Regions from separate parts of the Homo sapiens genome. Here regions 2 and 3 are each reported to be linked to region 1. Evidence: microRNA targets listed by miRTarBase, many of them from high-throughput screens and not tested one by one. Region 1 holds a microRNA gene; each other region holds the end of a gene's coding sequence.
Evidence for each region. The annotated mature microRNA hsa-miR-362-5p reads AAUCCUUGGAACCUAGGUGUGAGU and lies in region 1 at 1,868-1,891, shown strand. An mRNA with a match to its seed (bases 2 to 7 or 8) in the 3' UTR can be bound and repressed. Matches are read on the target gene's strand: a 7mer-m8 pairs with bases 2 to 8, a 7mer-A1 pairs with bases 2 to 7 and ends in A, and an 8mer does both.

Region 1 (3,348 bases):
AAAGGGCAGTGAGCTGTCTCGGCATTCTTCCCTTAGGTAGCTGTTGAATGAAGATGCACTTCCTTGTTAATGTTCTCTCTCACAATCACAGATACACAAATACTCGTATATGCACATGTGCACAAGCAAGGCATACAGGAGAATGAGCATGCAAGGGAGGCCCACATGTGGCTGGGTGCCCAGCATATGCAGACATGTGAGCATACAGGGACAGGAGAGACAGGAGCCTTTTTGATTATACTCACAGGGCCAGATGCCCCCATCTTTACTCATTTTCTGTCTCTCTCTCTCTCTCTTTCTCTCTCTCTCTCTCTCTCTCTCTCTCTCTCTCTCTCTCTGTCACACACACACACACACACACACACACACACACAGAGAGAGTGGAACTTCTGATGTTTTCCTTCATATCCCTTATGTGAAGGGGCGTGAACTTTGTTGACCTAGGGAGATTGAAGGAGAACCTCATCAACTCACACGTGAGGAATTTAAGAGGATGAATCTGTGTATCCCCTTGTGCAGGCACTCACACTCACAGATACTCGGACCTCTTCTCTCTCACCTGTCCCTTGCATGCAGGAGTTTCACCATCCCCCTTAAAAATGCACATTCATTCAAACACATATATACATAAAAATAGAGAGTAAGAGGTAAAAATATTGACGGCTGTGTGCCAGGTACTATACTTTATTTCATTTTCTTGACACCATTTAAGAGGTAGGCTTTAAATTGTCCTCATTCTTCAAAAGTGTTTAACTTGACCTTGGGAAAATCAGGTCGATTCTCTAGGCTAATATGTGGTAGAGCGTGCATTTGAACCAAGGTTCGTAGATACCAAAGTGCCTGGTTTTTCCACTACATTAGTGATTCTCCCAGTGTAGTCCCTGGACCAGTAGCATCAGTATCACCTGAGAACTTGTTAGAAATGCAAATTCTTGGGTCTCACCCCAGACTCACCAAGTCAGAAACCTCTGTAACCTGTATATTACCCAGGTCTTCAGATGATTCTGGTGCATGTTAGAGAACAACTGTGCTAAACTGTACTGCCTTCTTGTTGCATAGTCACACAAAGCATTTGCGGGATCATGAGCTTTGGCGTTATATTCATTCTCTCTTTCCTCCCTTTCACACTCCTCTCTCCTCCCAGTCTCTTTATAGGTTTATACTTTTTTGTTGTTACTATCTGAGAGAACAGACAAAATGTGTGTTTAACTAGACATCTTTAATGCAAAGCTCAAGAACTGTTCTCTTTACTTCTATATCATGACAAGTAAGTACCTTGTGTGAAGAAGAATGAGCCCTCTCACTGAACATTCACAGGGCTTTGTGTTCTGCTCCCCCTCTCTAATCCTTGCTACCTGGGTGAGAGTGCTGTCTGAATGCAATGCACCTGGGCAAGGATTCTGAGAGCGAGAGCTTCATCTTCGTGTAGGACAGAGCGTCTTTCTGTCCTCCTATCATCCATTCCACAAGTATTTATTGACCACCTTTTCTGTATATGATACTAAGTTGAGTAATGAGCATACAGTTGCTAACAAGACATGCTTGGTCCCTACCCTCATGGAGCTACAGTTGAGGAAGAAGAATGGAATTCCTCATCATCCATTACACCTACATGCCCTGAGAGTGGGTGGGCCACAGAGTGGACTTCTCATTACCACTGTCACCCACAAACATACACAAAAGCATGAATCTTCTCTGATCTCACATGGAACTCTGCAGGAGAAAAGATTCTCTGCCTTTCTGTAAAGTCCCTAGTAAATGACACTGTATATACATGAGAGTGAGACTTGGTTATAGCTACACATGCACACATACAAACACACAAAAAGGGCAGGTGTCAGAGCCTTCTTGTCTGCTCCCCCTCTTGAATCCTTGGAACCTAGGTGTGAGTGCTATTTCAGTGCAACACACCTATTCAAGGATTCAAAGAGGCTGAGCCTTGTCTACATGTAGAAGGACCAACAACCTGTCCCCTTCTTTCACATGTTTGTGTTTGCTATGCGGTGCCAGATCCTGCACTGGGTGGTGGAGATACAACGGTAAATAAGACAGCTAAGGTCCCTGGGCTCTGTAGAGGGCACCTGTGGGAGAATGAACTTCATCATTGCCCTGGACAAGCTTACACCTCTTTGAGAGCATGAGCTTTCTGTTTACTCCCAGCTTACTATGTGTCAGATACTGTAATGGGGAAACACACATTGGGTGATGAGACTTGCACAGCCAGTCTTTGCTCTCAGTGAGCTTATAGTTTACCAGAGAAACAGAAGAGAATGAAGTATCCCAATTTTCTGTACCATCTTCCAACATGTGCATGTACATGTGTGCCCACATACAGTTTGTCCCAACCTCCTTGCTAGGCCCCAAATACATCCAGCACCTGCAGACCCTCAAGTGTGATCTGAAAAAGATGCCACTCATATCTTTCATTCTAGTCTGAGGTTTTGTCTGAGAGGGCATGTCCATGTGGCCTTGTGCAGGGGGATGAATACATATGCTATCCCTGAGGAGAGGCATCTGTCTTAGCAAATGCACACAGAGATACTTTGCAGGAATGGGACCATGAAAGTCAAATATATATGGAGATATACATGCAGGGTGCAGGTGCCTGAGTCTTCTGCTCTGCTCTTCCTCTCTAATCCTTTGTCCCTGGGTGAGAGTGCTTTCTGAATGCAATGCACCCGGGCAAGGATTCTGAGAGGGTGAGCCCCCTCTGCGTGGAGAACAGAAGATCTGTATGTCACCTCTCAGCTGCTTGCTGCTTGCCTGCCTGCTCTCTGACCCTCATTCATTCTTTCCTTCCACAAATAATATGTATTGGGCACCATGATGGGCATTGGACACAGAGAAATGAACAAGGCAGACTTCGCCCCTGCCTTCCTGGATATTATAGCCTGAGAGGAGAATGGACTTTGTCACCACTCATTGCCCCTGCATATACTGAGGGTGAGTGGGCCACATAGGAACTTCTTATCTACCCTCTTCCCACCTTAACCCACCCATAAGTGTGAGTCTTCTCATTCCTGCTGTCACATTGATACTTGTTTCTTGTTTTTTCCTTCTTTCCTTCCTTCCTTCTTTTCTTTTTCTTTCTCTTTCTTTTCTTTCTTTCCTTCCTTTCCTTTCCTTTCTTTTCTTCTCTCTTTTCTTTTCTTTCTTTTTTGATGGAGTATTGCTCTGTTGCTCAGGCTGGAGTGCACTGGCACCATCACAGTTCACTGCAGCCTCAACCACCTGGGCTCAAGCGATCCTCCCACCTCAGCCTCTCAAATAGCTGGGACCACAGGCTTGTGCCACCATGCCTGGCTAATTTGTGTTTATTTTTTGTAGAGATGGGGTCTCACTATGTTG
Region 2 (3,284 bases), not on the chromosome of region 1:
GCGGGGAGGAAGAGGTGGCCTCATGGATCGTGGTGGTCCCGGTGGAATGTTCAGAGGTGGCCGTGGTGGAGACAGAGGTGGCTTCCGTGGTGGCCGGGGCATGGACCGAGGTGGCTTTGGTGGAGGAAGACGAGGTGGCCCTGGGGGGCCCCCTGGACCTTTGATGGAACAGATGGGAGGAAGAAGAGGAGGACGTGGAGGACCTGGAAAAATGGATAAGTAAGTGCTGGTGAAAAGCAGCTGTGGGCCGCCAGGCACAGTAAGAGGACAGCCCTTCCCAGCTTGGTTGGCGCAAGTCCTCATGTCTCTAGGAAGCTTGTGATAGTGGTTGGGAGGAGCCAGGAAGGGGCACCTGGGGGCTCTGGAAGGGCTTCCTCACCCCTTCCCATTCTAACCGATTGGGAGGAGCCAGGAAGGGGCACCTGGGGGCTCTGGAAGGGCTTCCTCACCCCTTCCCATTCTAACCGAAGGGCCCTCTTTACCTTGCAGAGGCGAGCACCGTCAGGAGCGCAGAGATCGGCCCTACTAGATGCAGAGACCCCGCAGAGCTGCATTGACTACCAGATTTATTTTTTAAACCAGAAAATGTTTTAAATTTATAATTCCATATTTATAATGTTGGCCACAACATTATGATTATTCCTTGTCTGTACTTTAGTATTTTTCACCATTTGTGAAGAAACATTAAAACAAGTTAAATGGTAGTGTGCGGAGTTTTTTTTTCTTCCTTCTTTTAAAAATGGTTGTTTAAGACTTTAACAATGGGAACCCCTTGTGAGCATGCTCAGTATCATTGTGGAGAACCAAGAGGGCCTCTTAACTGTAACAATGTTCATGGTTGTGATGTTTTTTTTTTTTTTTTAAATAAAATTCCAAATGTTTATAAAGAGTCATCCTTCTCGGCCTCTGTTCCACAGTCACTGTGTGTCTGCTGGGAGCATGCTCCCACCCCACCCAGGAGAGGGGTGCCTTCCAGGTAAACGGTTGGTTCAGGGTTTGTGTGAGGGGAAATAAGCGGTTGTGACATGGAAACAGACTCTGGCCCTGATGCAGCCTCTGAGACCCACTAGTGTCCAAAGGTTCAAGGGGAGATCCAGGTAAGGGAGGCACAGGAAGAACTGGAAATAACTTTGCCTTCCATGGGATCACGGATCAGGCACTAGGAGCATCTAAGGGGCTGCTCCCTCAGGTGAGGGACGATCCCTCTCAGGCGGACTGGGTCGGGTCCTCTCATCCCCAGCACTTCTGGGCATGCATTGTGTGCACCTCTGCTGTTTCTTTCCCTGGTCATTTCCTGTTCTAATATGTGTTTGACTCCCTGCGTTTGGAAAACCCTCCCTTAACCAGCCATCATCCCCTTCCCTCCATCAAACCATCTTCCTGGCCCTTTCTACAGGAAGCACATGGAAAGAGCTTTGTCCACCCCTCCCTCTCTGGAACCCACTTCATTCTTCACCTGCACTAAAACAAGCAGCTCTCAGTCACCAACCACCTCTAATGTTGCCCAATCAATGGTCTTTCCTTCTCTGTTCTCCCATCTCCTTCATTGCTTCCTTTTTCTCCTATCCCTAAATGCAGGAAGGCCCCAAAGCTAGCATTGCGCTCCCCTGAGCCGCCACACTGCCTGGCTGTCCTTTCCATACTGTGGCTTTAGCCCTTTCTCCCTAGGGCCAACTCGGCTTGGGTGCATGATGGGTGTAGAGCAGGGCTTGCTCTTGTCCCGTCCTGCCTACACCCCAGTTCAGTAAACACACACCTGCCCCAAACCTTGGAGTCATCCATGACCCATTCTCAAACCCCAGCCCCCAACCTAGCTCTCTTGCAAATCCAGGACGGTGCAAATCCACCCACAGCCCCCACCTCCATAACGCCCCCTCACTGGGTTCCCTGCTTCTCCCCTCAGTATCTCCAGCCCTTCCTCAGAAGCCAGACCAAGGTTTGTGGGGTTTTTTGTTGTTTGAGATGGTCTTGCTCTCACCAAGACTGGAGTACAGTGGTGCAATCACAGCTTCACCTCCTGAGCTGAGTAGCTGGGACTACAGGTGTAGCACCCAGCTAATTTTTTTGATGTTTTTGTAGAGACCAGGTCTCACTGTTGCCCAGGCTGGTCTCAACTTGGGCTCAAGTGATCATCCCACCTTGACCTCTCAAAGTGCTAGGATTACAGGCGTAAGCCACCACACTTGGCCCAAACCAACTTGACACGGGAGGTCATCTCCAGTCTCAAAACCATTTGGTGGCTCCAAGCACGCTTGCCATGCCCCAAAAGACCTCTGGGACCCCAGCTGCCCTGCTCTACCTTGCACGCCAGTCCAGCACTGTTCCTCAAGGGGCCGAGGACGCTCTCACCGCAGCCTTGGTGTGTCAGAGCCAAGATGCACACATAACCTAGGAGGCCCAAACTCGACTAGGGCATCACTGGGTCCCTGCGTCGTGCCAGGCACTGCGCTAAGTACCTCTGTGCGTTTAATTCCTAATAACCTTCAAGGCAGGTAACATAGGACAGCCACACGTCAGCTGAGATGGGAAGAGAGAGGTCAAGGGAGGACTTGCCATTGAGAGGCCTGAATTGAGCTAAGGGTGGTCGCCCTCCAGGCCCCGCACGCTCACCCTCCCACCAACCCACTGTATACAGGCACCTGCTTCTGAAAAGGATGGGTGCTCTGACATGACCCGCATGCTGCCAGCACTAAGGGAAGACAAGCAGCCTGCTCTGGAAGCTGCTACTGCACAAGCATCTGTCAGACTCTGGCATTGCATAGGCTCCCCAGGAGTAGCCTTATGTCCCTGCCCGAGAGGGGTTTGTCACTGGCACTAAATAGCCCTGGTAGAGATGTTTACAGCAGGCAGGTCTATTTTTCTCAGCCCAAAGAAACTTCTGGATGCTCTGGGCACAGATTCCCTCAGGCAGCATGGATGCCAAGCCTGTCTCAAAGGGCGGCAGGAAGCTGGCTGGTGCCAGGGCATGAAGGAGGTGGGCAGGGCAGAGAGCAGAGCAGGTGGAGAAAAAGCCTAGTCTCTACCCACACCCTGGTCAAACTCCCCAAAAGCACCTAGACTAAAAGTTGCCAACACAAACTTGAGGTCCCACGAGGCCACATGGCACAGGCCTGGGCAAAGGTGGCGGGGTCCATGGGGAGACTGATCTATGCCCACAGGGAGTGGCTCCCCTGCTCGACGGGGAAGAGCACAGGGCTGCAGCAACAGCAGTACCAGCAGCTGTGGGGCTGAGGACTGTGCAGTCTGTGACAGGGACAACAGCTGGCCCTCGTGCTGTCCCCTCC
Region 3 (3,000 bases), not on the chromosome of region 1:
AGCAATTAGAGGGGCTGGTGAAAGTCTCGGTTCGGCTGTTTCTTCTTCACCAGACCACAGGCCAGGCGGTTGGAAAGGATGGTGAGGGAGAGCAAGTACGACTGAGACCTGCAAGCCACAAGCTGGGACCTGCACCTGTCTCTCATCAGAGCCCGTGCTGGTCTCTCATCCCCAAACCTTCATCCTTGTGGCTGCAGACCAAGAAGCTGGTTCTCATACCCGGCCCAGGGTCTGGAAAAGCCAAAGGCAGAGTTCTGCGGGAGTGGGAGGAGCCGTGGGCCCAGCGGCTGCCCACACCACAAGTGCAGGAGATCCATGGTAACGTGCACGTGATGGAACAGGGCCTGACCTACATCCACTTCCAGTGAATACACATGGCTGTTGCTCTACTTCCACTTCCAAACCTCATGCAAATCTCTCTCGTGGCCAACCCTCACCAGAGAAACAAACAAGGAAGGGAATTCTGGGAACACAGTTCAGTTTAGCCAAGTTCACGACACTGCAGAAACCACAACATGCCATCAAAATATTAAACTAACTAGAATTCTTTCCGGGAGTATTGAATTTGCCTATTGTTCTTCTGCCATACTTCTCCGCTTCCACCCAGTAATAAGTAGCCTATCACCTACTCAGGACCCCAGTCTAAGTGAACCCCATGTTTTGTCTAACTTCTACTTTAGAAGTAGACACAGTTGGCTGGAGAGCTGGCTGACTGCGTGGTTTGTTTGTGCTGCACTAGGTCTGCCATCCTGCCCTGTGCCAGCCACTAACAGCTGCAGCAGTGGAAAGGCTCGGCCCTCGCAGGCTTGAACTGCCACCCACTCTGTGCTTTCATGTGTCACCTGTATTAAGTGCAGTGAGGATAATGGCACCTAAGCTATTTTTGTAGCTCTGTAAACAGCCCTTCATTCCTCGAAGCTACAAACATATCCCTGTGTTCAGAACCAGGTTCTGTATACTCCAGAAGAAAGACAATGATGGTGATGTCTTAAATATACCACTTTTTGTCAATCTAGGTGAAAGAAATATGAATATTCATTGTATTATTCTTTTGAATTTGAAAATGTAAAATTAATTAATTTTTTTTAATTAGCTGGATTTGGTGGCACACACCTGTAATCCCAGCTACTCAGGAGTCTGAGGCGTGAGGATCCCCGGAGCCCGGGAGTTTGAGGAGTCAGTGTGCTATGATTGCGCCACTGCACTCCAGCCTGAGCAACAGCACAAGACCCTGTCTCAAACCAAGATTAGAATCAGATCAAGTTTAGCCAAGATACATTAAATTAAGCGCATCAATTTTAATCTTGTGAATCTACTGAAGGCTCTTTCTGGTATCTGAAAACACACCTCCCGACGCTTGCAGGAACTTAGGGAACAGGGTACAGGCCTGCATGCCGTCCTGGCCCCAGCGACTCCCTTCAGCTCTGACTTTTAGTCTCAAGGTGTCTGCCTAGGTCTGCTCCTCACATTCCACTCTTTGCTTCTCCAGTCCTTGCTTCCATTAGAACACCTATGATGTGTAAAGTACGACACTAAGCACTTTTGTTGTTACTCAAATAACTTCCTTTCCTAAACTCCCAGAGAAATTCAGCAGCTTTTTGAGCTTTTTTCTTTTCAGAAATGAAGGCCTGAGGCTATACGGCCATATTTGTATCCCTGGCACAATATTGGACACATCAAATGGGTTCAAGAAATGTCTGTGGAATGAGACATCTCTGCAGTCAAAGAAAGCTAAACTATGTCTGCATCAAGGAAACCGGTTATCAGTGGAGATGAATCTGATGAGGGTGTGGAAAGGAAGGCTTCAGCTTCTGATGACGACTAAGGGACACCTAACCTGACAGTCAACAAAATGCCAGTGTTCCACCTGGGCAGGAAGACGCGCCCCAGATAAGGGCTTGGTGTGACGGAAACAGTCAGGGTAGAAACAGGAACAATACAGAGACCTAGATTCAATTAGTTTTTCAAGTTGACCACACATAAACCAGACAGCCTACTGAAAAGTTCATGAGGGCGTTGAGAACACAGAGCTTCGTAAAATATTTTCCCCTTGTCTCCATATTTTTATTCCGGTACCTGGACTGGACTATATACTCTCAATTAAAAAAAAAAAAAAACTAAATAAAAATAATTCTCAATGCAGAGTTCTTCAAAGAATTCCTAATAATTCACACGTTCCAGCTTCAGTTATCACCGAGAACTGGTTAGGTTCCTTCCACACCGGGAAACTGCATCAAGGAAAAGAGCTGGGCAAAGTCAGATTTTCATGCCAGCCGGACTCCTTCGCACCCACTTTCAGGGAGCCTCCCGCCAGCCTCCAGACCTGGTCAGATGATATGACCTTAGCTCCACACGTCCTCAGGGTGTCGGTGTCTGGGGCTCCCAGCCCCAGGCAGGCCGGGCAGCAGCTACAGCCTGAGCTCGCGGTCGGGCTTCATGCTGAAGGGCTCCAGCCGCTCGCCCTCGGGCAGCATGCTGTTGAGCCTGTCCAGCAGGGGCACAGTCTGGTCGATGCCCATCTGTATGCGGCGGAGGATGGCGGACATCTCGTTCACTTTCTGGATCTGCTCGGCATACTTGGCGTATCTTTTCTGGCGCTCCTGCATGAAGCTGAACAGAGTTTCTACAGACAGATCCATCTGTGGATGGGAAAGAGAAGTACATTATACCTTGTTTAATCAAGTCCTCTCCGCAGGGCCGGGTGTCCAGCCTGTGAGGGACACAGTCCCGCAGATCCAGTGGAAGCTGACAAGTTTTACAGGAAGCACCCAGGGCTAAAAAGCCCTTCAGGGACACAGCTTTATCAACTGTTGTGCCAGAACCACCTTTAGAAGAGAACTGAGAGGGGACTGTCCCTGGCTCTATGTTCTGGGAATGTGCGTTATTTGTACCTTGTTGAGATCCTGAGATTTCTATCTCCCTATATGAGGGGAATTCTGGATGTGGAAATCAGTCAGGCCAAGGCTGAATCTGGCTCTGTCACGTGTATGAGCTGCTAAT

Region 2: miRTarBase lists EWSR1 as a target of hsa-miR-362-5p. The part of its 3' UTR that is shown has no 7-base or 8-base seed match.
Region 3: the mRNA of BORCS5 is a reported target of hsa-miR-362-5p. Seed matches in the 3' UTR shown: 7mer-m8 at 182-188.

The regions. Positions count from the first base shown.
Region 1 is chrX:50,007,101-50,010,448 of GRCh38, forward strand. MIR362 (microRNA 362) reads left to right here and starts at 1,864; the gene lies at 1,864-1,928. All of the region lies in intron 3 of CLCN5 (chloride voltage-gated channel 5), which reads left to right. It overlaps MIR500A (microRNA 500a), which reads left to right and starts at 1,331; the gene lies at 1,331-1,414. It overlaps MIR501 (microRNA 501), which reads left to right and starts at 2,622; the gene lies at 2,622-2,705.
Region 2 is chr22:29,299,633-29,302,916 of GRCh38, forward strand. EWSR1 (EWS RNA binding protein 1) reads left to right here. Exons shown (of 17, transcript NM_005243.4): 16 at 1-219; 17 at 490-889. The coding sequence ends at 529. Among named protein-coding and RNA genes, the nearest start is that of GAS2L1, 5.4 kb to the right of the region's middle.
Region 3 is chr12:12,465,185-12,468,184 of GRCh38, reverse strand. It overlaps BORCS5 (BLOC-1 related complex subunit 5), which reads right to left. Exons shown (of 4, transcript NM_058169.6): 4 at 1-2,639. The coding sequence ends at 2,409. Among named protein-coding and RNA genes, the nearest start is that of DUSP16, 96 kb to the left of the region's middle.